2 separate regions of the Homo sapiens genome follow, and region 1 is linked to region 2. The links come from fine-mapping of genetic effects on gene expression. A gene starts in region 2. The other region holds a variant in brackets. All regions are shown on one strand. Distances are from middle to middle.

Region 1 (15,353 bases), 57 kb before region 2:
ATTTTCAATGATAAATGCCCCAAATCACAAGTAGTTCAACCCCCAAGTCTGAATTCTCCCAAACTGGAGAAATCGGCTTATTTCCAATAACAAGCTCCAGGCTCAGGGGAGGCCAGCCCAGCCGCGCAGGTGAAGCTGCAATTAGTGCAGGGCAATTAGGGACGCTCCCCGTTCGGGTGGGGCCTGGCCCACGGCGGCGCTTCGGGAGGGAAAGGCAGAGAGGGTGTGCGCCAGCCCCAGCCGCCCACGAACCGCTGGGAGCAGACCCCTCTCTCTGGCCTGGAGGGGACACGGTGCCACTGACTTGAGCCTGGAACCAAAGGGCGGGGTACCCATGCACCCCTGTGCTGAGAGATTCGCTGAGAGCCGCGCAGAGGGCCCCAGAGTCCAAACAGGACACCCAGGATTGAGGCGAGGTTAGGAAACGCACAGTACCTGAGGTCCTCACTTTCAGGGCTCCCTGAGTGATGAAAGGGGGGCTGGGAGAAGGCAGAGGCTGCCCGGGAGAGAAGAGCAGCTTTGGGGGGTTCTGGGTCCCCGCACCCCACCCCGCACTAACCAACTCCCCCAGCCCCAGATAGAAGGGGAGCTGGGCAGGTTCTGGGGGGTCAGCCCCAGGCAGGACCGCTCCCCAACACCCTTCCCTTGGTTACCCTCAGGTATGGAGTCCAGAGTGGAGTCAGCCATGCTCAGACCTTGACCCCCTTTTTTTAAATTTAATTTTTAGTAGAGATAGGGGGTCTCACTATGTTGCCCAGGCTAGCCTCAAACTCCCAATCTCAAGCGATCCTCCCCCCTTGGCTTCCAAAGTGCTGAGATTACGGATCTGAGCCTCCACGCCTGCCCTGAGCCTCGCCCTGCGGCTGCCTGGGCTCCTCCCCGCCTCCGCCCCGGACCACCAGGGGGCGCTGTGAAGCCTGAGACTGGCCGGGCTTCACCTTGGACCCGCCAGGAGTCCCTGCAGGAGTTGGGAGCCCCGCCAGCCACAGCTACTTCCCCGACCCTCCCGGCTTCCCACCGCTGATTGGACCAGGCATGGGCATCTGACTGAGGGGAGCCTATCCATAGGCTGGCCAGTGATCTATCAGGGCTGGCCTAGTGAGAACACGGCCAATCAGATGCTTTCCTGGAACCCGGGGCCAAAGCTGCCCCAGGGGAGTGTGGTAGCCGCAGGCAGAAGGGCTAGCCCGGAGACAGGAGGGGGAGGTCCGAGGAGGGGATCCCGGCGAGGGAGACGCGGGGCGAGTGGCCTGGGCTCCTCCTTGGCTTGACCCAGCTTAGACTTTCTCAAACCGAAGTCATTCTCGCTGGCTCCTGGCGACTCTCATCCTGTCCGCTGTCACCCTTTCGTGATTGACCTGAAATCACTTCGTCACTGCAGCCGCACCCTAAGCATTCATCTCATATCTGTGATGTTTGCTGTGCTCCTTATGTTTGCTCTAATATGGGTTAAACCAAATTCAACACCATCAAAATAATGTTCTTCCATTTGCACACCCACTTTCACAGTAGCAGCGTTCCCAACAGCCAAAAGGTGGGAGCAGCCCACGGGTCCACGGACGGGTGAAGGGGTGAGCAAACAGTCTATACGGACAGTGGAGAGCTCTTTAACCGCAGAAAGAAGGAAATTCTGCATATGCTGCAACATGGATGAAAGGTGAACCCTGACATTATGCGGAGTGCAATAAGCTAGTCACAAAAAGACAAATACTGTAGGATTCCACTTACATTCTGTGTCCAGAGTAGTCAAATTCAGAGAGACAGGAAGTAGAATAGTGGTTGCCAGGGGCTGGGAGGAGCCGTGAATGGGGAGGTATTGTTTAATGGGTATGGAGTTTCGGCTTAGATTGAACTGTACGCTTTTTTTTTCCTTCCTTCCTTCCTTCCTTCCTTCCTTCCTTCCTTCCTTCCTTCCTTCCTCCCTCCCTGCCTCCTTTCTTCTTTCCTTCCTTCTTTCTTTTCCTTCCTTCCTTCCTCTTTTTCTCTTTCCCTCTTTCCCTCCTTTTTCTCTTTCTCTTTCCTTCCTTTCTTTCTTTTTCTTTCTTTCTTCCTTTCTTTCTCTTTCTTTTTCTTTCTCTTTCATTCGTTTGTTCCCTCCCTTTCCTTCCTTCCTTTCTTTCTCTTTCTTTATTTTTCTTTTCTTTCTTTCCATTCCTCCCTTCCTCCTTCTTTCCCCTGACCATGGCAAAGACGTGAACTGTACACTTAAGCATGGTTTAAACGGTAAGTGTTATGTGATGTGCGTTTTACCACCATGTTTGAAAAAGGTTCTTCTGTGCACCCCAGAACCCATCCTGCGTGGGGATCCACAGAGCGCCCAGCCCAGCCTCTGCATGGCATGACCAAGAGCATTTGCTCACCGGGGGGCTCACCGTGGCCTGAGCTAGGGCAAAAGTACCAAGCCAGGATGGCCCTACCCAGCCAGAGCCGGAGACTGAGGGGTCAAACTGGGGTACTTTCCTCGTCTGCAAGGAGAACTCATAGCAGTCCTCTTTAAGGTTCTTTTTTTTTTTTTTTTTGAGACCATGACTCACTCTGTCACCCAGCCTGGAGTGTAGTAGCGCCATCTCAGCTCACTGCAACCTCTGCCTCCCGGGTTCAAGCGATTCTCCTGCCTCTGCCTCAGCCTCTTGAGTAGCTGGGACTATAGGCATGCACCACCATGCCCAGCTAATTTTAGTATTTTTGGTAGATACTGGGATTCACCATGTTGGTCAGGCTGGTCTTGAACTCCTGACCTCAGGTGATCTGCCCGCCTTGGCTTCCCAAAGTGCTGGGATTACAGGCATGAGCCAACGCGCCCGGCCCCTCTTTAAGGCTCTCAAGGGCCCTGTCTGCCAAGGAAGAAAATGCCATCCCAACCCCCAGCCCCACCCCCACTTCCATACACACGTTGGCCTTAGTGGGGACTAAAAGCAGAGAGGAAATGGAGGCTTAGAGAGGTCGAGTGACATGCCCAAGGTCACACAGCCACAACCGGAAGCCAGCAATTCCAATGGCAAAATCCATACTCTCTCTAAAACTTTGCTTCTGAACTACAAGAATGAGAGCCTGGCGAGTGCAGGCTAGGTTGAGGAGAAGCCACCGGACAGACACAGAACACCTTCCGGCGCACCAGCCTTCCGTGGCCATTTGGAGTGGGAGGTGCAAAATTGAGCAAATGCATAAAACCTAACTTTTGCATCACACAAGGATTCCCATGTTGCAGGGGTACCGCGTAACACTCGCATGGAGTTTTTTGGTTTGGGTTTTTTGTTTTGTTTTGTTTTTTTGTTTTGTTTTGTTTTGTTGAGACAGAGTTTTGCTCTTTTTTTTTTCTTTTTTTTTTTTTTGAGACGGAGTTTCGCTCTTGTTGCTCAGGCTGGAGTGCAGTGGCGTGATCTCAGCTCACTACAACCTCTGCCTCCCGAGTTCAAGCGATTCTCCTGCCTCAGCCTCCCAAGTAGCTGGGATTACAGGCCTGCACCACCAGACCCAGCTAATTTTGTATTTTTAGTAGAGACGGGGTTTCACCATGTTGGCCAGGCTTGTCTTGAACTCCCGACCTCAAGTGATCTCCCTGTTTTGGCCTCCCAAAGTGCTAGGATTACAGGCGTGAGCCACCACACCCAGCCTCACGTGGATTTTTGATAAAGCAAGGTTCTTCTGTGATAGCAGCAGGCCTCCATTATCCTGGTCAATTGGCCTGCACAACTAGGGAAACAATGGTGGAAAACTTCGAGAAGCTTGTGTTCCACCTGCCACCAATGGAGAAAGCACCACTCCACTGTGACATGCTTCCTGATGACTCGCTGAACAGAAGGATGCACCCTCAGCCACCAAGGGTGTAGTTTGTGGGTGCCTCCTGGGAACATCAGGTTGGCAACACAAATGCCAGCCCCTCACCCTAGAGTGATTTCAGAGTGTCTCATCTCTTAACTCTGAGTCACAGAGCGGTGGGGAGGAAGACATGGGGCAGGGCAGGGCAGGGCAGGGCTGGGCGTGGCGTGGCCACTCATGGAGCAGAGGGAAGGGTGGAGAGGTGCACTCTGAGTTTGTTGCCTTCATTTGCTTTGTTGATGAAGGAGGAGCCTGAGGGGCCTGGCAGTGGGACTGAGGCTCTGGGCCTTCCTGCTCCCCTGGGTTTGACCCAGACTCCAGCTACCCAGGCATTGCCAGGCAGTATCCTGGGGAAAGGTGGGACCTGCTGCTTCCCACGCCTGCCCTGTGGGATGGGGAGGGCTTGGGGAAGGTGCTGCTATGCCCTGAGTCCCCGGAGCCAAAGACTCCCGAGGGTGACAAGCAGCCCTGCCCGACCTCAGGCCCAGGGGTGATGGCTGTTGGTGGCTCCCAGGCTGAGTCACTGTAGCCTTCCCGTCACTCTCTCTGACACCCAGAGACTGGGTCCTGCCATCCTGGGGTAAGGCAGGGGGCAGGAAGGTGCTTTCGAGAATGTAGCCCTGGCCGGGCACAGTGGCTCACGCCTGTAATCCCAGCACTTTGGGAGGCAGAGGTGGGCAGATCACCTGAGGTCAGGAGTTTGAGACCAACCTGGCCAACATGGTGAAACCACTAAAAATACAACATATACTAAATTACTAAATAAAAAAAATACTAAATACAAAAAGTACTAAAAATACAAAAAAGTAGCTGAGCGTGGTGGTGCACACCTGTAATCCCAGCTGCTTCAGAGGCTCAGGCAGGAGAATCGCTTGAACCTGGGAGGTAGAGGATGCAGTGAGCTGAAATCGTGCCACTGTACTCCAGTCTGGGAGACAGAGCGAGACTCTGTCTCATAAATAAATAAATAATAAATAAATAAATAAATACGTAGCTGTGCCAGAGGCTTAGGGAACTGGGAGTGTCTTAGGGAACTGGGGACCTAGGAGGGGAGGCCACGTGGGTAGGGCTCCCACCCCACTCACTTCAACTGGACATTCTCAGTTCAGGAAGTGATTTTGTTATTGTTGTTGTTGAGCTTCTGAGTAAAATTTCCTGTGAAAAGGGGTTTAGCAGGCGGGCGCAGTGGCTCAAGCCTGTAATCCTACCACTTTGAGAGGTCAAGGCAGGAGGATCGCTTGAACCCAGGAGTTCAAGACCAGTCAGGGCAGCATGGTGAAACCTTCTCTACAAAAAAAAAAAAAAAAAAAAAAAAAAAAAAAAAATTAGCTGGGGGTTGTGGCGTGCACCTGTAGTCTCAGCTACTCGGGAGGCTGAGGTGGGAGGATCACTTGAGCCCACGAGGTTGAGGCTGCAGTGAATGGCAATCACACCATTGGACTACAACCTGGGTGAGAGAGTGAGACACTGTCTCAAAAAAACAAAAATTAAAAAAAGAAAGAAAAAGGAGTTAACTACTAAAAATCATTTCTGGGCCAGGTGCAATGGCAGAGTCCCAGCTACTCTGGAGGCTGAGGTGGGAGGATCATTTGAGTTCTGTAGGTGAAGTCTGCAGTGAGCTGTGAGCACGCCACTGCACTCCAGCCTGGACAACGGAGCAACACCCTGTCTGAAAAAAATATAATAAATTAAAAATAAAGCCTGGGTGCAGTGGATCATGCCTGTAATCCCAGCACTTTGGGAGGCCTAGGTGGTCGGATCACCTGAAGTCAGGAGTTCGAGACCAGCCTGACCAACATGGAGAAACCCGGTCTCTACTAAAAATACAAAATTAGCCAGGCGTGGTGGCATATGCCTGTAATTCCAGCTACTCAGGAAGCTGAAGCAGGAGAATCACTTGAAGCTGGGAGGCAGAGGCTGTGGTGAGCCAAGATCGTGCCACTGCACTCTAGCCTGGGCAAGAAAAGCGAAACTCCATCTCAAAAATAAAATAAAATTAAAAAATAGCCGGGCGCTGTGGCTCACACCTGTAATCCCAGCACCTTGGGAGGCCAAGGCAGGCAGATCACAAGGTCAAGAGTTCGAGACCAGCCTGACCAACATGGTGAAACCTCATCTCTACTAAAAATACGAAAATTAGTCGGGCGTGATTGCACGCCCCTATAGTCCCAGCTACTCAGGAGGCTGAGGCAGGAGAATCGCTTGAACCCGGGAGGCGGAGATTGCAGTGAGTCAAGATGGCGCCACTACACTCCAGTCTGGGTGACAGAGCGAAACTGATCCCAAAAAATAAATAAATAGAATAATGAAGATAGAAATCATTTGGGGTCCCTGCACCCTACATAAAATGTCAAATCATAAACCCCAGGGCCTACTCTGAACCAAGACCTCTCTGTTCCTCACTGTACCTCCTCAGAGAAGAAACTCTGGAAGAGCAAGAAAAGTGTTAGACTCAGAGTCAAGCGGACCCAGTAGAAAACCCCAGAAAAGGACAGCTCAGACTCAATGGAAGCTTATTTTTCTCTCATTGTGAAGATGTCGGCCGGGCGCGGTGGCTCACACCTGTAATCTCAGTACTTTGGGAGGCCAAGGGGAGTGAATCGCTTGAGGTCAGGAGTTCGAGACCAGCCTGGCCAACATGGTGAAACCCCGTCTCTACTAAAAATACAAAAAAATTAGCTGGGCGTGGTGGCAGGCGCCTGTAATCCCAGCTACTTGGGAGGCTGAGGCAGGAGAATCACTTGAACCCGGGAGGTGGAGGTTGCAGTGAGCTGAATTGTGCCACTGCACTCCAGCCTGGGCAACAGAGCAAAATGCTGTCTCAAAAACAAAAACAAAAACAAAATCTGTTTAGAGGGGCCCAGGGCTTATATGGCAAGGAGTGTCACAGTGTCAGGAACCTGGGCTGCCTTTATTCCTTTCATCCTGTGGCTCTGCCGTACCTGGTTTTATTTTTTTTCTTTTTGTTTGCTGTTGTTTTTTGAGATGGAGTTTTGCCCTGTAGCCCAGGCTGGAGTGCAATGGCGCAATCTTGGCTCACTGCAACCTCCGCCTCCTGGGTTCAAGTGATTTTCCTGCCTCAGCCTCCAGAGTAGCTGGGACTATAGGCTCACGCCACCACGCCTGGCTGATTTTTTGTACTTTTAGTAGAGACGGGGTTTCACCATGTTGGCCAGGCTGGTCTCCAACTCCTGACCTCAGGTGATCCACCTGCCTCAGCCTCCCAAAGTACTGGGATTACAGGTGTGAGCCACTGTGCCTGGCCTCTTTTTTTCTTTTTTTTAGACACAGAGTCTGGCTCTGGGGCCCAGGCTTGAGTGCAGTGGTGAGACGGGAGAATAAGTCCTAGAGGAAGGGAACCTGAGGACTTCCCAGAACT[A/G]AATCAGATGGAGAGGAGAGAGGAGGCATTTCAGCTACGACAGGAAATATCCTCTTCATTTGCATAGGGCGTTCACCAAGTAAGTGACTTTGTAACTTCATCCTCTTCATTTACATAGGGTGTACACCCAGTAAATAGCTTTGTAACTTCACTTCAGTAACTCACTTTAAGCCTCTTCATTTACATAGGGTGCACACCAAATAACCAATGGAAACCTCTAGAGAGTATTTAAACTCCAGAAAATTCTGTGACGGGCTCTTGAGCCAACGTGCTCCGGCCGCTCCCACTCTGTGCAGTCGACTGTACTTTTGTTTTCAATAAAACTCTGCTTTTGTTTCTTCATTCTTTCCTTGATTTGTTTATACGTTTTGTCCAATTCTTTGTTCAAGACACCAAGATCCTGGAAACCCTCCAACGCTAACAGTGGCACGATCACAACTCACTGCAGCCTCTCCTGGGCTCAGGTGATCCTCCCACCTCAGCCTCTCAAGTAGCTGGGACTACAGGCCCACACCGCCATGCCCGGCTAATTTTCGTGCTTTTTGTAGAGATGGAGGTCTCCCTCGGTTTCCCAGGCTGGTCTCGAACGCCTGACCTTGTGATCCGCCCGCCTCAGCCTCCCAAAGTGTTGGGATTACAGGTGTGAACCACCGCGCCCGGCCTGGACCCTCCATTTCTTTTTTTTTTTTGAGACAGAGTCTCGCTCTGTTGCCAAGGCTGGAGGGCAGTGGCTCTATGTTGGCCCACTGCAAGCTCCGCCTCCCCGGTTCACGCCATTGTCCTGCCTCAGCCTCCCGAGTAGCTGGGACTACAGGCGCCTGCCACTACGCCTGGCTAATTTTTTTGTATTTTTAGTAGAGACTGGATTTCACCATGTTAGCCAGGATGGTCTCCATCTCCTGACCTCATGATCCACCCGCCTCGGCCTCCCAAAGTGCTGGGATTACAGGCGTGAGCCACCGCGCCCGGCCTAGTTTTCTTTTTTAAGACGGAGTCTCACTCTGTCGCCGAGGCTTCACTGCAACCTCCGTCTCCCAGGTTCAAAGGTTTCTCCTGCCTCAGCCTCCCAAGTAGCTGGGATTATAGGCGCCCACCACCATGCCTGGCTAATTTTTGTATTTTTAGTAGAGACGGGGTTTTGCCATGTTGGCCAGGCTGGTCTTGAACTCCTGACCTCAGGTGATCCACCCGCCTCAGCCTCCCAAAGTGCTGGGATTACAGGCATGAGCCACTGCACTGGGCCACATGAATAGTTTTCATTTCTGAGATCACTTCGTGTTCAAAATGGTTGCTGAAACTCCTGCCATTTTATCTGCATTCCCAGAAGTGAGAAGGGAGTAGAGTGTGCCTTTCCCTTTAAGAACTCTTTATGAAGTCAAACACACTCCTTACATTGAGGCCAAAAATTAGTCACATGGCCACACCTATGTGTAAGGGAGGCTGGGAAATGTCTTAATTCCAGGCAGCAAATGCCCTGATAAAATATCAGCTTCTAATCCCTTGGATCTCTGTGGGAGGTGGAGGTGGGGAGTGGAAGTGGAGGACCGTGAGCAATAGCTGATGTAATCACTGAGAAGCTGTGTGTCCTTGGGCAAATCCCTTCACCTCTCTGAGCTCCTGCCTGTCTTTGAAATGAGGATGTAGAAAGATCATCTCCAAGGACACTCCCTGCCTTGACATTTTGAGACTCTGGCGCAGGGAGCCCAGGGTGGTCAAAGACAAGAACAGAAGCTGCTTGGGTTTAAAAGTTGCCTGGCCAGGCACGGTGGCTAACGCCTGTAATCCCAGCACTTTAGGAGGCCGAGGCGAGTGAATCTCCAGGTCAGGAGTTCGAGAGCAGCCTGGCCAACACGGTGAAACCCCGTCTCTACTAAAAATACAAAAAAATTACCTGGGCATAATGACAGGCACATGTAATCCCAGCAACTTGGGAGGCTGAGGCAGGAGAATCGCTTGAACCCAGGAGGCGGAGGTTGCAGTGAGCCAAGATCGCGCCACTGCACTCCAGCCCTGGCGACAGAGTGAGACTCCGTCTCAAAAAAAAAAAAAAAAAAATGTTGCCTGTTCTGGGCTGGGCGCGGTGGCTCATGCCTATAATCCCAACAATTTGGGAGGCTGAGGCAGGCAGATCACAAGGTCAGGAGTTCAAGACGAGCCTGGCCAACATGGAGAAATCATGCCTCTGCTAAAAATACAAAAAATTAGCCGGGCATGGTGGCAGGCACCTGTAATCCCAGCTACTCGGGAGGCTGAGGCAGGAGAATCTCTTGAACCCAAGAGACAGAGGTTGCAGTGAGCCCAGACTGTGCCACTGCACTCCAGACTGGGCAACAGAGCAAGACTCCATCTCAAAAAAAAAAAGAATGGCTAAGGCAGAGCAGGTCCGAAGGCAGCTAGTTGCCCTTTTGTTTGTTTGTTTCTAAGATGGAGTCTCCCTCTGTTTCCCAGGCTGGAGTGCAGTGGCATGATCTTGGCTCCCTGCAACCTCTGCCTGCTGTATTCAAGCGATTCTCCTGCCTCAGCCTCCAGAGCAGTTGGGATTACAGGCATGAGCCACCACGCCTGGCTAACTTTTTGTATTTTTAGTAGAGACGGGGTTTCCCCATGTTGGCCTGTCTGGTCTAGAACTCCTGACCTCAGATGATCTCCCTGCCTTGGCCTCCCAAAGTGCTGGGATTACAGGCCTAAGCCACCATGCCTGGCCAAGCTTGCCCATTTTTATGGTTATTTCTTGATTACATGCTAAATAGAGGGTGTATTATTCATGCCTCCCCATTTTAGACCATATAGGGTAACTTCCTGACGTTGCCATGGCATTTGTAAACTTTCATGGTGCTGGTGGGAGTGTAGCAGTGAGGACGCCCTGAGGTCACTCTTAATCGCCATCTTGGTTTTGGTGGGTGTTGGCCAGCTTCTTTACTGCAGCCTGTTTCATCAGCAAAGTCTTTGTGACCTGTATCTTGTGCCGACCTCCTATCTCATCCTGTGACTTAGAATGTCTTAACCTCCTGGGATTGCAGCCCAGTAGGTCTCAGCTTCATTTTACTCAGCCCCTGCTCAAGATGGAGTTGCTCTGGTTCACACAACTCAACACTTTGGGAGACTGAGATGGGAGGATCCCTTCAGCACAGGAGTTCAAGACCAGCCTGGGCAACATGGCGATACTCCCTCTCTGCAAAAAATATATGTAAATTGCCGGGCACGGTGGCCTGTAATCCCAGCACTTTGGGAGGCCACGGCGGGAGGATCACGAGGTCAGGAGATCGAGACCACCTTGGCTAACACGGTGAAACCCCGTCTCTACTAAAAATACAAAAACTCAGCCCGGCGTGGTGGCGGGCACCTGTAGTCCCAGCTACTCGGGAGGCTGAGGCAGGAGAATAGCGTGAACCCAGGAGGCAGAGCTTGTGGTGAGCTGAGATCGCGCCACTGCACTCCAGCCTGGGTGACAGAGCGAGACTCTGTCTCAAAAAAAAAAAAAAAAAAGATGTATATTTACTTATTTACAAAAACCGGGCCAGGCTGGGCGCGGTGGCTCACACCTGTAATCCCAGCACTTTGGGAGGCCAAGACGGGTAGATCACAAGGTCAGCAGATCGAGACCATCCTGGCTAACACAGTGAAACCCCGTCTCTACTAATAATACAAAAAAAAAATTCGCCAGATGTGGTGGCGGACACCTGTAGTCCCAGCTACTCGGGAGACTGAGGCAAGAGAATGGCATGAACCCAGGAGGCAGATCTCGCAGTGAGCCAAGATCGCGCCACTGCGCTCCAGCCTGGGCGACAGAGTGAGACTCAGTCTCAAAAACAAAAGCAAACAAACAAAAAAACTGGGCCAGACGCGGTGGCTTAGCCTGTAATCCCAGCACTTTGTGAGGCTGAGGTGGGCCCACCTGAGGTCGGGAGTTCGAGACCAGCCTGCCCAACATGGTGAAACCCCATATCTACTAAAAATACAAAAATTAGCTGGGCATGGTGGCAGGTGCCTGTAATCCCAGCTATTATTGAGGCTGAGGCAGGAGAATCACTTGAACCGGGAGGTGGAGGTTGCAGTGAGCCGAGATGGCACCACTGCACTCCATCCTGGGCAACAGAGACTGTATCTCAGAGAAAAAAAAAAGGGGGGGGGCAGGTGTTTTGTCTCACGCCTGTAATCCCAGCACTTCGGGAAGCCGAGGCGGGCAGATCACAAGGTCAGGAGTTCGAGACCAGCCTGGGCGACATGGTGAAACCCCCGTGTCTACTAAAAATACAAAAATTAGCCAGGCGTGGTGGCGCATGCCTGTAATCCCAGCTACTCGGGAGGCTGAGGCAGGAGAATCATTTGAACCCAGGAGGCAGAGGTTGCGGTGAGCTGAGATTGCGCCACTGCACTCCAGCCTGGGTGACAGAACAAGACTCTGTCTCAAACAAACAAACAAAAAACGATCTGTCCTCTGGTGACACGGGAGCCTGGATGCCTTGCTGGAGTGGATAGTCTGTGGCTCGGGGGAGACTCTCTAGGAGCCCCCAGGCCACCCTGTTCCTTCCTGCAAGGCTACTTGCTGCCCTGACCCCTCTGAGGGGCAGGCAGGGAGGGGAGAGGCACTGGGGAAACTGCAGGGGGATGTGGTTGTGATCCAGGCCTGTGGAGGGAGTGCTGGGGAAGGGGAGACTTCAGCAAGGGCAGATGAAGCCTTGTTTTTTCCTTTTTTCTTTCTTTCTTTTTTTTTTTTTTTTTTTTTGCGATGGAGTCTCGCCCTGTTGCCCAGGCTGGAGTGCAGTGGCGTGATCTCAGTTCACTGCAAGCTCTGCCTCCCGGGTTCATGCCCTTCTCCTGCCTCAGCTTCCCAAGTAGCTGGGACTACAGGCGCCCACCATCACGCCCGGCTAATTTTTTGTATTTTTAGTAGAGACGGGGTTTCACCCTGTTAGCCAGGATGGTCTCGATCTCCTGACCTCGTGATCCACCTGCCTCGGCCTCCCAAAGTGCTGGGATTACAGGCGTGAGCCACTGCTCCCAGCCAGATGAAGCATTGTGACTCTAGGGCATGTAAATTCCCTGGCAGCCAGGCCCTGGGAGCACCCCTCCCCTCCTGTGCCCTTGACACCTACCTCAGTGAGGCAGCCCCAGCAGCCGGGCAGTGGGCGGCAGAGAAGGGTGTCCTGGGACAGAGGTTTTCCTAGTCTTTCTTCAGAATGGAGGAAGCCCCTGGGGTGCCTGGACTTCCTGTAGGACCCAGGGAAGAAAGATGGCCATTCTCCCTGTCGCGTGATGGGGGCTCCAGCTGTTTTACACAAGAAGACATATAACTTTCATGGTTAAGAGCAGGGGTTCTGGGCCTGATGGCTTGGGTTCGAATCCCGGCTCCTATGCATGCCAGCTGTGTTACATACTTCTAGACAAATTACATAACTTCTCTGTGCCTCACTTTCCTCCACTGCAAAACGAGGAGTCCTGAGCAGGTGAGATCCCCTGACAGCTCTCGGGACAGCTGGAGTGCTCAGTGAAAGCTCTTCGTGCAATCACTGCGGAGGGTGACCAGGGACATCGATAGGACGCTGGAGGGATTACCCTATGTCCCCCGACCCGCCCGACTACAACAGCCTTGCAGATAAGCCACGAGCCTGCCTGCTCCTCCTCGTGAGTTGGAGACAGGAGAGGGAGCAGAGTTCAGGGGCTTGTTTCTTTCTTTCTTTTTTTTTTGAGATGGAGTTTCGATTCTGTTGCCCAGGCTGGAGTGCAGTGGCGCAATCTCGGCTCACTGCAACCTCTGCCTCCCAGGTTCAAGTGATTCTCCTGCCTCAGCCTCCTGAGTAGCTGGGATTACAGGCCTGCGCCACCATGCCTGGCTAATTTTTGTATTTTTAGTAGAGACAGGGGTTTCACCATGTCGCCCAGGCTGGTCTCGAACTCCTGACCTTGTGATCTGCCCGCCTTGGCCTCCCAAAGTGCTGGGATTACAGGCGTGAGCCACGGTGCCTGGCCAGGACCCTCCATTTCTTTTTTTTTTTTTTTTTTTTTTTTTTGAGATGGAGTCTCGCTCTGTCACCCAGGCTGGAGTGCAGTGGTGCGATCTCAGCTCACTGCAAGCTCCGCCTCCCGGGTTCATGCCATTCTCCTGCCTCAGCCTCTCGAGTAGCTAGGACTACAGTCGCCTGCCACCACACCTGGCTAATTTTCTGTATTTTTAGTAGAGACTGGGTTTCACCGTATTAGCCAGGATGTTCTTGATTTCCTGATCGCGTGATCCTCCCGCCTCGGCCTCCCAAAGTGCTGGGATTACAGGTGTGAGCCACTGCGCCCGGCTGGACCCTCCATTTCTAATAAGCTCCTGGGAGAGTCCTCCCTGGTGCTCTGAGGGTGACTGACCGGCAAGGCACTTCTGGGGCCCCTAAGCCCTCCAACCTCAGCTGCTGTGGAGAGCTGACCCCCAGGGGAGTACGTCAGGGTGCTGGGTGGGGCACCAGTTTCAAGGATGCCCAACACAGCCCTCCCCTTGGGGCTGCAAGGCCCTGGGACCAGCGGCCCAGCCCTGTCCCCAGGCAGGTCCTCAGACCTAGGACCACAGGGGGGTCTGGGGCCCAGGCCAAGGGCAAACCTGCTGGGATCTGAGCCCCTCTTGGTGGCTTCCTGGTGTGTGCACATCCTTCCCCAGGCAGGAGAGGAAGCAGGGCCAGCTCCTTCTCCTCCCAGGGCAAGACCTGAAGTCTCTGTTTGTGTGTCTGTCAGACTTGCTGTGAGGGCCACAGTGTCTCCACTGAGGCCTTATCCAGCCTCCAGGAGGTCCCATTTTTCAGGGAAAGGGCCTGCTGCTGAAGGCTGTCACTCATCTGACTTCAAATCCCAGCTCTGCCACTTCCAGGCTGTGTGACTCCAGGCAAGTTGCTTAACCTCTCTGTGCCCACTACTTCTGTAAATGGGGATATCATGGGATTCTCGTGAGCTGTGAATAGCATCTGTTGATGTGTTTGTTTCTGTGCATTCAGACTTTCCCTCTTTCCTCAGGCACTTGCCGGGCAGCCTTCTGTGCCACATCCCTGACCCTGCCCCAGGGCACACCAGCTTCAGTGACAGGGATGGCTGGTGAACAGGAGGCCCAGGCCTGCTGCTCTGGCCGATGTAAATCCAAGGAGCTGTGATGACGCGGGAGAGGGGCGGTTTGGGAAAAAATGTGTGAAGGATGCCCCCGTGGGAGCAGGAGCCCCACTGGCAGGGGCAGGCCGGGGGTAACTCAGCCACAGGGAAGGGGCCCAGCCGGGGCTGGAGGGAGGGCCACCTGCAGAAATGAGCTGTGGGGGGGCGAGAAGGGCAGGCAGCTGGGGCTGAGGAAGACCAGCCCCCAAGACACCCATGGAGAAACTGAGGCAGAATCTGTACTTGGAGCCAGCCACCGCTCTCCACTGGCCCACACTGCTGTGATCCTTCCCACGCTGCGCGGCTGGCTGGAACCCAAACCCCCCACAGCGGGCCTGGCCTTCAGAGCTGGTTCCAGATGTTTAAATACCCAGCCTTCACCTCCCGTCACAGACACTTCCACTGGAAGGTGTTGGTGCCACATCCCCAGTGCTGCCAGGCTAATATGGGGTGGGGGCCTTGCAGCCCCAAGGGGAGGGCTGTGTTGAGCGTTCTGGACACTGGTGCCCCACCCAGCACCCAGCAGGGGCACTCTGCGCTGTGCTGCCCCTCCCCAGCTGCCTGGGCCACCAGTTCAGGAGAGCTCACCCCTTTGCAACCTTTCCCAACTCAATGCCACGCCAGGAAGTCAGGAGGGGGATGACCCTGCCACACTCTGCCCCCCAGCTCCCTTCCCACCATGCCCCGGGACCAAGACAGGAGGGCCAGCTGGGCCCAGGGCACTTCGCCAGTATCATCGGGTCCTCACCACAGCCCTCAAGGGGGTGTTCCTGTTCCACACACAGAAGACTGAGGCCCAGGGATGGGACTGGGTCGTGTGAAACGCCAGGCCATGCCCGGCCCCGCAGAGTCCTGCGTAGCTGCCCGGCCGGCCCAGGGCTCAGATCCCCTCCTCCAGGCCTGGCCCCAGCTGCTATTGGGGCCCACTGAGGCCTACTGGATCCTAACTGGATGCAATTAGGACATCACCTGATGCCCCTGTCAGGGTGGCTCCTCCCAACCGCTAGAGGACTCAGGCCAAAGGCATTTGGGGTGC
Region 2 (14,049 bases):
CTCCAGATGTGTCTGGAGGCAGAGTTGACATTGGGTGTGGAATTGTAAAAAATAATTTGTTGGCCGGGTGTGGTGGCTCACGCCTGTAATCCCACCACTTTGGGAGGCTGAGGCGGATGGATCATGGGGTCAGGAGATCGAGACCATCCTGGCTAACATGGTGAAACCCTGTCTCTACTAAAAATACAAAAAACAAGATTAGCCGGGTGTGGTGGCAGGCGCCTGTAGTCCCAGCTACTAGGGAGGCTGAGGCAGGAGAAATGCGTGAACCTGGGAGGCAGAACTTGCAGTGAGCCGAGATTGCACCACTGCACTCCAGCCTGGGCGACAGAGCGAGACTTCATCTCAACAACAACAACAAAAATAATAATAATAATAAATTTTTCTTTTTTTTTGTCCTCCCTGCCTCATCCCTGTAATTTATTTTATTTTACTTTATTATTTTTTTTGAGACAGAGTTTCACTCTTGTTGCCCAGGCTGGAGTGCAATGGCGTGATCTCGGCTCACTGCAACCTCTGCCTCCCGGGTTCTAGCAATTCTCCTGCCTCAGCCTCCTGAGTAGCTGGGATTACAGGCATGCGCCACCACGCCCGGCTAATTTTGTATTTTTAGTAGAGACAGGGTTTCTCCATGTTGAGGCTGGTCTCGAACTCCTGACCTCAGGTGATCCGCCCGCCTCGGCCTCCCAAAGTGCTGGGATTACGGGCTTGAGCCACTGCGCCCGGCCTATAATTTTTTTTTTTTTTTTTTTTTTAAGAGACAGGGTTGTCAGGCACGGTGGCTCACGCCTGTAATCCCAGCACTTTGGGAGGCCGAGGCAGGTGGATCACAAGGTCAGGAGTTCAAGACCAGCCTGGTCAAGATGGTGAAACCCCAACTCTACTAAAAATACAATAATTAGTATTGTATTTTTACATACATTTTAGGGGTGAGGTGGCAGACCCCTGTAATCCCAACTACTCGGGAGGCTGAGGCAGGAGAATTGCTTGAACCCAGGGGGCGGAGGTTGCAGTGAGCCGAGATTGCACCACTGCATTCCAGCCTGGGTGACAGTGAGACTCCGTCTCAAAAAAAAAAAAAAAGAAAAGAAAAAAGAGAGACAGGGTCTTGCTGTATTGCCCAGGCTGGAGTGCAGTGGCTATTCACAGGCACAATTCCGCTACTGATCAGCCTGGGAGTTTTGACCTGCTCCATTTCCGACCTGGGGTGGTGGTTCACCCCTCCTTAAGCAACATGGTGGTCCCCTGCTCCTCGGAAGTCACCATATTAATGCCAAAGTTAGTGCGGACACCCTCTCGGCATAGCGCACTACAGCCCAGAACTCCTGGGCTCAAGCGATCCTCTTGCCTCAGCCTCCCAAAGCTGTGTGAGCCACCACGCCTGGCCATTTAAATCATTTTCAAATGTACAATTCAGGGACATACAGTACATTCACGATGTTGCACAACCATCTCCACAGTGAAGTTCCAGCAGGAAACCCATGTCCATGAAGCAGGCACTCCCTTCTCCCCTCCGTGTGCTAGGCCAGTGCAGGGAGAGACATGATATGGGGCTGCCAGCAAGGCAGATGCTAGGGGAAATTGAGGGAGATGGCTGGAGGAGAAGAGGGTCTTCGGCTATCCCCTGCGTCACTCCCAGGAGCCCCAAGATGTGTGCGCAGCAGAGGAGACTCTGAGACACATTCTCCTCTAGACCAGGCACTGCTGAACACTGGAGCAGTGCAAGCAGGACGGCAACACCAAGAGGTCCTGGGCGGGGTGGGGTCTGGGGAGGGAGAGAGATACAAGAACCAAGAGTCCCAGGGCTGCAGCTGAGACAGGGCTGGTAATGAGGCACAGCCCCGGAGTGGGCAGGGGTGGGGACCTCCCATGGATGGGATGGTCAGAAGGCTCCTGGAGGAGGTGACATGTAGGTGGGGTAAGGCAGAGGAAGCCTGGGAAGATTGGGGGAAAGGTGTTCCCGGCCTAGAAACAGCCGAATGCCAGCAGGCCTCTCCGTGTCACACCCCTGCCTCCTAGGGCCATCCATCTCTCTGTCTGTCTGTTCCAGGGAGGGTTCCCCGGTTTGTCTTTTACTGAAAGATCCTGGAGGAGGGGAGGGCTAGTTGTTGCTCTTATGCAAAGGCCCTGAGGCAGGTGCAGGGTGTGAAGGGGAGGGGAGACATGAGGCCAGGAGTCGAAGTGGAGCTGGAGGCAGGGCCATGCCTCATGTGCCTGGGGCCAGCTGTGGAGTGTTTGGAATTTCATCCTTGGCCCACAGGAAATCCCCGTAGGGACCGGGGGTGGGGGTGGGGGGTGGTGGGGGTTGTAAGCCAGGAAGGAAGTGATCCAGCCCTTGTTTCAAAGATGATCTCTGGCTGTCATGTCATTAGGGGATGGCAGTTGGAAGGGTGTCGTGGTATCTAAGCTGGTAGAGGAAAGAGTACGGCCCAGGTATCCCACCTCCCAGGGCACCCTCGTGTCACTCTTGACAGGCCCAGTACTTGCAGTGTCCTGGGGAAAAGCCCCATGTGTCTCTCATCTGTGAACGAGAGGTGAATGGAGGCCCATCTAGCTGGGCCAGGCCTGACCATCCGCAGGACTGAATGCCAGCAAGCCTTTCCACGTCCCACCCCTGCCCACTAGGGCCATCCGTATCTGTCTGTCTGTCCCAGGGAGAGTTCCCTGGTTTGTCTTTTACTGAAAGATCCTGGGGGACGGGAGGGCTAGTTGTCACTCTTGTGGACAAGGGGTAGGTCCTCAGCCAGGAAACCTTTCTTTTTTTTTTTTTGAGATGGAGTCTTGCTCTGTCCGCCAGGCTGGAGTACAGTGGCACGATCTAGGCTCATTGCAACCTCCCCCTCTCGGGTTCAAGCGATTCTCCTGCCTCAGCCTCCTGAGTAGCTGGGAAGACAGGCGCCCACCATCACGCCTGGCTAATTTTTGTATTTTTAGTAGAGACGGGGCTTTACCATGTTGGCCAGGCTGACCCCGAACTCCTGACCTCAACTGATCCGCCCGACTCGGCCTCCCAAAATGCTAGGATTACAGGTGTAAGCCACTGTGCCCAGCCCAGGAAACCACTCTTGGAAGGCAGTTTCTAGACAGAGAAAAGAACACCCTTTTCTCTGAGGGTCTAAATGTTGGTGTAGCCGGTATCTGTCTGCTGCGAGGCTGCTGGGAAGCCAGTGCTCTGCTCATTATCTATATCCCTGCCAATATATCTACACTCTTACTGGGGTCTGGTTTAAATGTCCCAGCCTGACCCCAAGACAAAGTCAGCAGTGGTGACTGAAGCAGCCCTTGCTGCGTGGCAGGCTCTGTGCTGGGCACGGGATTCCAGACACACAAGAGTGAGACCCTATCTTGCAGAGCTTACAATTCGGGGTGGGGGCAGGGGGGAGGGAAACACAAGTAGCCCTAAGCATGGCTCATGACAACTGTCATCAGTGCCAGGAGTGGGGACACCAGGGCCTGGGACAGGGGGCTGAGGCGGTCAGGAGGTTCAGAAGGGCTCCTGGAGAAGGGGGCCTGCGAGCTGAGCTGTGAAGGCCAAGGGGCATGATCTGGGTCGCGTGGCCTGGTGGGAGCCTCACCCCTGGGCAATCCTGGGAAGAGAGGTCCCAAAAGTGGGGAATCTTGAGGCCAGCTTAGGCAGGAGGCCCTCTCCTCTCCTGGGCAGAGACCTGCTTCAGCCTAGGTCTGAGCTCTGCCCGAGCTGGTCTTCCCACATGCCTGCGGCCCCTTGAGGGAGGCCTCACACTGGTCCCAGGCCTGCTGCTGCCGTCCGCCCATGCCTCACGGGAAGCTTCTTAGACAGAGTGAAAAGCATTCCTAAGGGAATGTAAAGAAAGGGCGGGGCGGCTGGGCAGGAAAGGGCCTGGCTCACACTTCCCCTCGATAATCTTATCGCGATGACAAGCTCCCAGCCTGGCCTCCATTTGTTCATCTGGACCGGGAGGGTGCCCTGGCTGCAAGGCTGGAGTTAGGATTGACATAACCGTAAAGTGTGGACGTGACCCACCAGGAGCATGGGGATGAGGACTCCTCGGGGTGGCCTTGTGGGAACGGGGTGGGGCACCCACACTGGCCTTGGCACCCTAGCAAAGGTGTGGGTGTGGAAAGCCAGGCCTGAAGTCTCAAGTCCTGGCAGGGAGGCCATCTCCTCCAACACCCTGGCAAATGAAGGATGCAAAGGAAACGAAATCTACAGAAACGCGGAGACCCTGAATGATGTGTTCTTCTGTGTCTTCTTCCTCCTCATTCTTTCTGTTATTTAATTATCTCTATTTTCCAAACAGCTTCCTTGAGATATAATTCATAGTACATGCCATACAATTCACCCATGAGAAGTGTCCGATACAGCAGTTTTAGTATATCCAGAGTCATGCAACCATCACCACAATCAATGTTAGAACATCTCGCCGGGTGAAGTGGCTCACGGTTGTAATCCCATCACTTTGGGAAGCTGAGGGAGGTGAATCACGAGGTCAAGAGATCGAGACCATCCTGGCCAACATGGTGAAACCCTGTCTCTACAAAAAATTAGCTGGGCATGGTGGTGCGCACCTGTATTCCCAGCTACTTGAGAGACTGAGGCAGGAGGATCGCTTGAACCCAGGAAGTGGAGGTTGCAGTGAGTCGAGATTGCACCCTGAGATCGCGCCACTATACCCCAGCCTGGCGACAGGGACTCCGTCTCATACAAACAAAAAAACAAAAAACAACAACAAAAAGAACATCTCATTACCTCAGAAAGAAACCCTGTACCCATTTGCAGTCACTCCACATTCCTCTCTCCCTCAGCAACCAATAATCTGCTTTCTGCCTGTTGTGGACATTTCATAGAAATGGAATCATACACTATGTGGTCTTTTGTGACTAGCTTCTTCATTTAACCTGTTCAGGATTCATCCATGTTGTAGCATCCTTTTTATGGCTGACCCATATTCCAGTGTGGATAGACCACACTTTGTTTAAACATTCATCAGATGAGGGACATTAAGTATGAATAATACTGCTATGAACATTTGCCCACAAGTTTTTGTGTGGACATATGTTTTCAGTTGTTTTGGGTATATATCTCTGAGTGGGATTTCTGGGTCAAATGGCAACTCTATGTTTAACTTCTTGAGAAACTGCCAGACTATTTTCCAAAGCAGCTGCACCATTTTACATTCCCACCAGCAGTGGCTTCCAGCACTTGTTACTGCATCTTTTTGATGAGTGCTATCCTGGTGGGCAAGAAGTGGCATCTCTTTGTGGTTTTTTCATTTCCCTGACGGCTAACATTGAGCATCTTTGCATGAGTTTCTTGGCCTTTTTTTTTTTTGAGACAGGAGTCTCGCTCTGTTACCCAGGCTGCAATGGGGGGCGATATTGGCTCACTGCAACCTCTGCCTCCCAGGTTCAAGTGATGCTCCTGCCTCAGCCTCCAGGTAGCTGAGATTACAGGCACCCACCACCGCGCCTGGCTAATCTTTTTTTTTTTTTTTTTTTTTGAGACGGAGTCTCACTCTGTTGCCAGGCTAGAGTGCTGTGGCGTGATCTCCGCTCACTGCAACTTCCGACTACCTGGTTCAAGAGATTATCCTGCCTCAGCCACCCCATAGCTGGGATTACAGGAATGCACCACCATACCCAGCTAATTTTTGTATTGTTAGTAGAGATGGGGTTCACCATGTTGGCCAGGATGGCCTTGATCTTCTGACCTCGTGATCTGCCCGCTTTGGCCTCCCAAAGTGCTGGGATTACAGGCGTAAGCCACCGCATCCAGCCACAGCTAATCTTTTTTTTGTTTGTTTTTTTGAGACGGAGTTTTTGCTCGTTGCCCAGGCTGGAGTGCAATGGCGCAATCTCTGCTCACTGCAACCTCCGCCTCCTGTATTCATGTGATTCTCCTGCCTCAGCCTCCCGAGTAGCTGGGATTACAGGAGCCTGCCACCATCTGCAGCAAAATTTTTATCTGTAGGAGAGACGCGGTTTCTCCATGTTGGTTAGGCTGGTCTCGAACTCCCGACCTCAGGTGATCCATCCGCTTCAGCCTCCCAAAGTGCTGGGATTACAGGCGTAAGCCACCATGCTCACCCACACAAGTTTTAATTTTTATGAATTCCAATTTTTCTCTTTTGTTCCTTATCCTTTTGGCATCGTAATCAAGAAGACTTTGCCTACCTCATGGTCACAGAGATTTAGGTTTTCATCTGACAGTTTTATAGTTTTACAATTAGGTCTTACAATTAGGTCTACGATTTACTTGCTTAGTTATTAACATATTAAGTAACAAGTTCTAGCAGTGGGTCTAATAACTTCTGTGATTTTGGAGACGAGTATACGTGCTATTTTGAGGCTGGGCGCGGTGGCTCATGCCTGTAATCCCAGCACTTTGGGAGGCCAAGGTGGGCGGATCACGACGTCAGGAGTTCGACACCAGTCTGGCCAACATGGTGAAACCCCATCTCTACTAAAAACACAAAAATTAGCTGGGCGTGGTGGTGGGTGCCTGTGATCCCAGCTACTCAGAGCCTGAGGGAGGAAAATAGTTGGAACCCGGGAGGTTGCACTGAGCTGAGATCATGCCACTGCACTCCAGCCTGGGCGACAGAACAAGACTCTGTCTCAAAAAATAAAATAAAAATAAAATAAATAAATAAATGCTATTTTGAGATATTTCCAGTGACTGCAATGTGTTGAGATGGAATATCACCTACATTCATAAGTGAAGAAAATGCTGGATTTTGGTTAAAGGTTGATTTTTTTTTTGAGACAGGGGTCTTGCTGGAGGCCTCAAAGTACCTGGGATTATAAGTGAGTGCCACCGCACTTGGTGTTAAAGGTTAATTTAAATAAAGATGTATTTACCAGCTCTGGTTCATGGTCTCCAGAATTCTATCCATGGATTCCAGGTTCAGAACTCTTAGGATGGCTAAAATTCCAGCCTGAAGTCTCAGTTTTCCAATAGTCCTTTGGGGGCTTGAAACCTCCCAGGAATGGCTTTAGGGTGTTTTCCTGACACTTCCCAGCCCTGGCCCATACCCTGCCCTCTGCCTGGCTCCATTCTTGGGAAAGGAATTCCTTGCCAAACAGAATTTTCTAACAAGCCCAAATATAGTAATAATAATAATTAGCAGCAGGAAGAACTATAAACACTGGGGTAGGAAAGCCTGTACCCGTCTCTCCTTTTCCTGATCCCTTCCCTTCATTCCTGAACTGAAGGAGACGGAGCCCCTTTGGGCTTTGATGACTCCATCACTGGGGTATGTTCATTTGATGGTTGATTTTGCTGTACCAGGTACTTCCTTTCCCATTTTCTAATCATTTTATAACACATGCTGACTCTTTTCCCTTCCCTTTTTCTGGGAAAATACAATGAATACAAAATTATAAACACTGTATGTTTAGCATCAGACCAAGCATGTTGCAGACACCCTTGCCCCTGGCCGTCCCAGAATCCCTGGGGCAACTCTGGCCTTGGTTAAGAGGCTCCATAGCTCCTGGCTTAGCTGTGCCCCGGCTCCTCCCCTCATATCATGCCTGATCCTAGGAAGATATTTCACTTCTGGGTGCCTCAGCTTTCTCATCTATAAGGGTGGGGTATGAGATGGTCATGGTCATAGTTTTTGTTTTTTTTTAGGGTGGGGGGACGAGATGGTCATAGGGTCACAGTTTTTTTTTTTGTTTTTGTTTTATACAGACGGGATCTCGCTATGTCACCGGGCGCCATGGCTCAAGCCTGTAATCCCAGCACTTTGGAAGTCCGAGGCGGGCGGATCACGAGGCCAGGAGTTCAAGACCAGCCTGGCCAATATGGTGAAACCCCGTCTCTACTAAAAATACAAAAATTAGCCGGGTGTAGTGGCGGGTGCCTGTAATCTTAGCTACTCGGGAGGCTGAGGCAGAGGTTGCAGTGAGCCCAGATCGTGCCACTGGACTCCAGCCTGGGCGACAGAGTGAGACTCTGGATAAAAAAAAAATTAATGAAAGGAAAAAGGCAAGGAGGAATCCCAACGATGACAGGTTGAAAGCTGCAGAGGAGACTGATGGGGAGTGACCTGTGAGGTAGCAGGACCAGGTGAACTGGAATCCCCAGGTCCAGATAAGTGAGGGTTTCCAGGAGGAGGAGTGGTCGACTCAGCTGCTGCTGAGAAGCTCAGCGAGACCAAGAAGTGACCCCCGGATTGGGCAGCGGAGAGGTTGTAGGTTACCTTAGCAGCAGTTAAGGGGTGGGGACACAGCCCTGCTGGATGGGGTGATGAGAGGCTGGGACGGGAAGGGGTGGAGGAGGTGAGTGTAGGGAAGTCTACAGAAATGTCTGAAGGGAGGGAGAAATGGCCAGAGGCAGGAGAGGGTTTGGGGGCAGGAGTCGGTCCAGAGTGAGGCTGATGGCACAGAAAAGCCTCGAGGGGAGGGCAGCGGGATGGGGTCCTAGGCCTGAGGAGGACGTGAGTACCCGACAGGGAAGTTTGTCTGTTTGGGTACTGGGAGAGGAGAAAGATCCTGAAGGCTTTCGTTTTTCTCTGAAGAATGAGGTAAGGCCACGGGCTAGGAGCCCAGGCAGAAGGGGCTGTGGGAGGTGTAAGGAGAGGGGAGCAGGCATGAGGTCTCACTTTCAGAGTGGGAGTCTCACCGAAAAACATGATAGGGCTGCCGGCTTTGTGGATGCGTTAGAAGTGTGGGATCACAAATTCCCAATCCCAGGGCTGTGTGTGGAGCCCTCTCCCCAAGCGATGGGAAGGCGAGTGTCCTTAACGTTGGGGTTCCCTATGCTGGAAGGATGGACTCTATTACAGTCCATCAGGCCAGGAGGTAGGTACTGTTTCCTGTATTTTACGGTTGGTAAATCTGAGAGCTTCAGGCCAATACAGTATCGGTGTAGCATTAGGGTCAGACAAAATAGAACAGGGCCCGGCACATATTAAGTGTTAATATTCGTTGGAAAAAAAAAAAAAAGAATGCTTGTCAAGTCCACTGCTGCGCCCCTACTGGTAGCCCAGCCTGGCCTCAGCCTTGGGGGCTGGTGGGTGGAGAGGGCGGCCTTGTGTGCTCTGCTATCCCTATTGCCTTAATGACCCAGTATCACCTTTGTGCCCTTGTAGGTTGATCCTTCTAGTCTCGTGGCAGAACTTTGTAGACACCAAGCGAGCGGGGCAGCGTGTTCTGGACCTCATTCCTCACACAGGGCTCACCTCCGGATGAGTCAGAGGCCTTAGCCGGTGGCCCAGCCCCGGGAATGCCACCCCGGTTCTGTACCCTGCCCAGGCCAGCTGACAGGGTGTATTGGGGCACACACCTGCAGCATCCAGGGCACTCCAAGGAGAGGGACGTACTTTTGAGGAGAGTCTAAAAGTCTAAGTCCCCCACCTGAACTTGGTGGGGGAAGGGCTTCTATACCAGGAGGGCTCCCAGCCCTGTTTCTTAAAGGCCATTTAGGCAGAAGTGAACGTGGTCTCTTCAATAAAGTTAATAATGGTTCATGCTGCAGAAAATGTTCAAGACAAAACCCTGCTTATTTACTCAGGCTTTAAAACCATAAAACTCCCAAATTCTCCCTGTAGCTATTTATATCCAGAGCTAGTCCCCAAATTAAGCTCAGGTTTGAAGTAACTTAAAAGAAAAATAGCCTTCCCTGCTTTAAAAAGATTTTCCGTATAGACCTCCACTGGTCTAATTACGAAGGGCGCGTAGTTTCAGGGTTGGCTGGGGGTAGGGCACCGGGACCTCCAAGGCAGTTACACTCCTCAGCCTCCTAACAGCTGTACGGCTGCCCGGTGGTCCCTCTCCAAGGCAGCGGCTCTCAGGCTAGCCTCAGCCTACCCCACCCGCCCGCACCCCGTGTTCTCCCTCGTGGGGGTGCCGGGGGGAGTAGGGAGGCGGGGCGGGCGGCAGGTCCGGAAAAGTGGCTGCCCTCGCCCCGAAAGAAGTTGACCCTCCTCCCGTGCCGAGAGCTTGGGATGAAAATAGCTTCTTCCTCTTTACCCTTCCTGGACCCCCGCCCCAGGACGACTGGGCCCCTTCATTCATCTTTCAGCGGCCACCCAGGCGGCTTGGGCGTCCCCACGCCGGGACTCTGTGCCCCGGGGACCCACGGGGACCCTCCCTTGGGCCTCTGAAGCCGCGGCGCACCCCGCACCCAAGCCACCCCGGGGGCCCCGGCCTCCCCCACCCAATTAGCGGGCAGCACCGCAGACCCGAGTCCCCACGCAGCTCGCGCCAGGGGAGGCGGCCGCCTGGGAAGCCCGTCCCCCGCGCCGCGGCCCCCGCCCCCGCCAGCCCCGCGTCCCCTGGGAAAGGCGGGGGCGCAGCGAGTTTCCCCCAATTAGTTTCCTCTTTGTATGGAGTCTTAGCGCGCCCGTACTCCTCCGCGCAGCGGAAAGTAGTCCCGGCCGGGCGCTCCGCGGCTTCCCAGCGCCAGACACATTTTACTTTGAGAAGTCGACGGGACTCTCAGCGGGGTCCTTCAGATGGGGGGCCAGAGGCTGCGGGAGGCGTGCGCGGGCAGCAAGGGCAGGGGCCGCGGCCAAGGGTAGGGGGCGGGGAGGGCCGCGAACTCCTCGCCGCTGCCTGGAGAGATGGATCATGGGGCGTAGGGAGATGGCAAACCTCAAACCACGTACGGCGGGCGATACGCGTCAACCGAACCTCGCCAACGGAAGCCCGGAGCCGCCCCTCCCCGCTCCCCCGCCCCGCCGCCCCGGACGGACGGGCGCGCGGAGCCAACCCCGCTGCCGCTGGCTGTCCAAATCCCACCAGAGCCAATGGGAGCGCGAGGGGGGGCGGAGCCATCTCGCGTCAGTTGGGCTGCGCGCCCCCCTCCCCCGGCGCCCCTGCAGGCCCCGCCCCTGCCTCCTCCCCTCTCCGCTCGCTGCTCCCGGAGTAGTTGGTGCCAGTGAAGTGAGGGCGGCGATGAGAGCGAAAGTTGCGCTCGGCTCGTCGCTGGGGGCTTGAAGCGGCTCCGCGCTCTGCCCGTTTGGGCCTCCCCCGACTCGGACTCGCGCCCGTGGGCTCCCGCCGCGCCCGCCCGGCCCCGCGCCGGCCCCGCGCCCCCTCCCCCGTCTCGGCGCCCCCTCCTCAGGAGCCGCGGGTCCCCGCCACTTTCGCACGGCCCCGGCCCCCGCCGATGCCGGCCATGGTGGAGAAGGGCCCCGAGGTCTCAGGGAAGCGGAGAGGGAGGAACAACGCGGCCGCCTCCGCCTCCGCCGCCGCCGCCTCCGCCGCCGCCTCGGCCGCCTGCGCCTCGCCAGCCGCCACTGCCGCCTCGGGCGCCGCCGCCTCCTCAGCCTCGGCCGCCGCCGCCTCAGCCGCCGCCGCCCCCAATAATGGCCAGAATAAAAGTTTGGCGGCGGCGGCGCCCAATGGCAACAGCAGCAGCAACTCCTGGGAGGAAGGCAGCTCGGGCTCGTCCAGCGACGAGGAGCACGGTAGGTGGCAGCCGCCCCCGCGGCCCCGGGCCCCGCGCCCCGCGCCGCGCTGACCGCCGTATTCTGCTTCCCCCGCAGGTGGCGGTGGCATGAGGGTCGGACCCCAGTACCAGGCGGTGGTGCCCGACTTCGACCCCGGTGAGTAGCGGCCCCGGCCGGCCGGCGGCGGGGATGAGCGGGAGCCCCGGGTCCCCGGCGAGCCCGAGGGGGCGGGAGCCCGCCGACAACTTTCTTTTTGTGCGTTCGCCCTGCCGTCCGTGGGGAGAACAGCAGGGCGAGGACGAGGAGGCGCACACGCACACGAGTGTTCTGCAAACGTGCCTCTGCACCCGGGGGAGGCCAGGTCGCCCCCAGCAGGGCCGGCGCCGCTGCCCCCTTGCGCCTCCGAGGACTGCGGGTGGCGTCGGAGGTGGCCACACCTGGCCTGGGGGCGCTGGGGGTCCCTGCGTCCAGGTGAGCTGCGCCTCGGCCAGGGGTAAGGGTGGCAGTGCCGGAGAGTTAGTGTCCTGCGAGCGCCCCGGACTTAGGAGGTCCCCAGAGACCCCTTTCTCGGAACCCTTCCCAAAGGCTGCTCCCCACGCCTTTGCTCCTCCTCTCAGCCTCTGGGCTCTTGCTGGCTCCTGACTGCCCTCCCATCCAGAAGGCGAGTAGAAGAACGACCCCCCAAAACCAGTCAATAAAAGAAGTGTGTTTTCCAGAGGGCGCCTGCCTGGGGAAGAGAGTCTCGCGTGTGGCAGTTGGATTTTAGGACCTATTTGTAAATGTGTGTATTTCCTTTTTTTTGGAGGAAGAGATTGTGAAATTGAGAAGCATCAGAAGCTTTAGCCTAACAAATGCTTTTCACCTACAAGAAAGCCCTACACCCTAGAATGGAACACTTAGTTCCCTGGCTGCTATTCTGTGTAGAAGCAAATTTAAAGTGGTACAAGAAAAAAAATCCGATCAGACAAAGGAATTCGTCAGATTTTAATGCATGAGATTCTAGCCAGTGTCTGTATGAGACTGTCTTTAAAGGTTGTTGGTATGGAAAATGTTTGAAAGAACGTAGGATTTATTTCAGAAATAAAATTCAAAAGAGCATCTTGTAAAGCTGGAGTTAACAATCCTCCATGGTTGGAGGGCTTTAGAGCTGGGGTTCTGTATGTGGGTTATACCACTAGTTTATTTGAAAAGATAAACGCATACATGTTTTTTCCTTGGAAACAAGACTGCAGAAAATTGCAATGATCTAGTCCTTGAAAAAGGCGATTGCTCTCAAGCTGTTATTAAGGTACTAAACTGCACTTTGAAGTGAAAATACATAGAGGTCCTAGGTGAGCTCTTGGACACTCTGGAAATAAATGACTTCCTAAATTGGCCTTCTAAATTTTGATTTGTTGACGTAAATCTGTTAAATTTATTTGTCTAATACTCGCGTTTGTGTTTCTTTTAAGTCCATGTTAGTGTTTTTGATAGTTTCCTCTTCTCCCCAATTCTTTTTTTTTTTTTTGGTAGTCACTTCTCGTTTATGAGTGACAGGATAGAACTAGGTGGCCAGGCTATATCTCTTGTATGCTTGGCTCCTCCGTTCCTTGGTTGGCCACCAGGGGAAGCATACTGTTTTTTGGTTACAGTTGACCCTGTCTTCATTTTGTAGGTCAAGTCTATCTTTGCTTTAAAACACAGAACATAAAGCTTGTTACCAAATTTTCCTAATGTATTATTTTTAAAAATCGACTTCCACAAATCTTTGAGTAAGTTGGTAGGCTTTTTGATACATTTTTGTTAACATAAATTTTGAAAACTTTATGTAGATGTGTTGGATGTGACTAAGGAAAAGGGCATATTTGTCAACAACAGGAATTAGATTTCTGACATTCATCGAAATATTGACATCAGCTCTGCATTGTTAGTAATGAGTTTGACTTCTTTGGAGTTATACTTTTCTTTGAAACAGCAAATATAATATTTTGAACTGTCTTTGGGCTTTTTGTTGGAATAGATATGAGCATAAACTTGCTAGTGACCAGCTATTCTAAAATGGAAAACATTTATCAGATTGCAGTAGCTCACACCTGTAGTCCCAACACTTGGGGAGGCCAAGGCTGGAGGATCTCTGGAGCTCAGGAGTTGGAGACCAGCCTGGGCAATGTAGTCAGACTCTGTCTCAACAAAAAATAAAAAAATTAGCTGGGCATGGTGGCATGTGCCTGTAGTTTCAGCTACGGGGGGGTCTGAGGCTGGAGGATCTCTGGGAAGTCAAGGCTGCAGTGAGCAGTGATCTGGCCATTGCACTCCAGCCTGGGTGACAGAGTGAGACCCTGTCTCAGAAATAAAAAGGAAAACATCTAACTGTTTTGCTGCATAGTCTTGCTGCCAATTGGTTGAGTATTGATATTAAAATTTCCAAATTTCTTTTTTTTTTTTTTGAGACGGAGTCTTGCTCTGTCCCTCAGGCTGGAGTGCGCAGTGGTGTGATCTCAGCTCACTGCAAGCTCCGCCTCCCAGGTTCACGCCATTCTCCTGCCTCAGCCTCCAGAGTAGCAGGGACTACAGGCGCCCACCAACACTCCTGGCTAATTTTTTGTATTTTTAGTGGAGACGGGGTTTCACCGTGTCAGCCAGGATGGTCTTGATCTCCTGACCTCGTGATCCGCCCGTCTCGGCCTCTCAT

Direction of the effects. Alleles are on the strand shown, and positions count from the first base shown. SD is a standard deviation of normalised expression in the study named.
As copies of A replace G in region 1, the expression in monocytes after R848 of the gene that starts at base 10,858 in region 2 goes down (moderate effect, 0.70 SD a copy in Quach 2016).

What was found.
Region 1: its variant is fine-mapped to the expression of RCOR1 in monocytes after R848 (Quach 2016, PIP 0.95). The same link has a PIP of 0.9 or more in monocytes after Pam3CSK4.

Annotation. Positions count from the first base shown.
Region 1 is chr14:102,523,752-102,539,104 of GRCh38, forward strand. LOC105370680 (a long non-coding RNA gene) reads left to right here. Exons shown (of 4, transcript XR_944239.2): 2 at 1,510-1,657; 3 at 7,105-7,277; 4 at 7,387-7,540. Among named protein-coding and RNA genes, the nearest start is that of MIR4309, 8.2 kb to the right of the region's middle. RefSeq lists a silencer at 792-1,091 and an enhancer at 4,987-5,488. The variant A/G (reference allele first, on the strand shown) is at 7,199.
Region 2 is chr14:102,581,792-102,595,840 of GRCh38, forward strand. It overlaps RCOR1 (REST corepressor 1), which reads left to right and starts at 10,858. Exons shown (of 12, transcript NM_015156.4): 1 at 10,858-11,396; 2 at 11,475-11,534. The coding sequence starts at 11,096. It also overlaps the pseudogene RN7SL546P. RefSeq lists enhancers at 2,416-2,944, 9,130-9,179, 9,461-10,276 and silencers at 9,855-11,164, 11,225-11,834.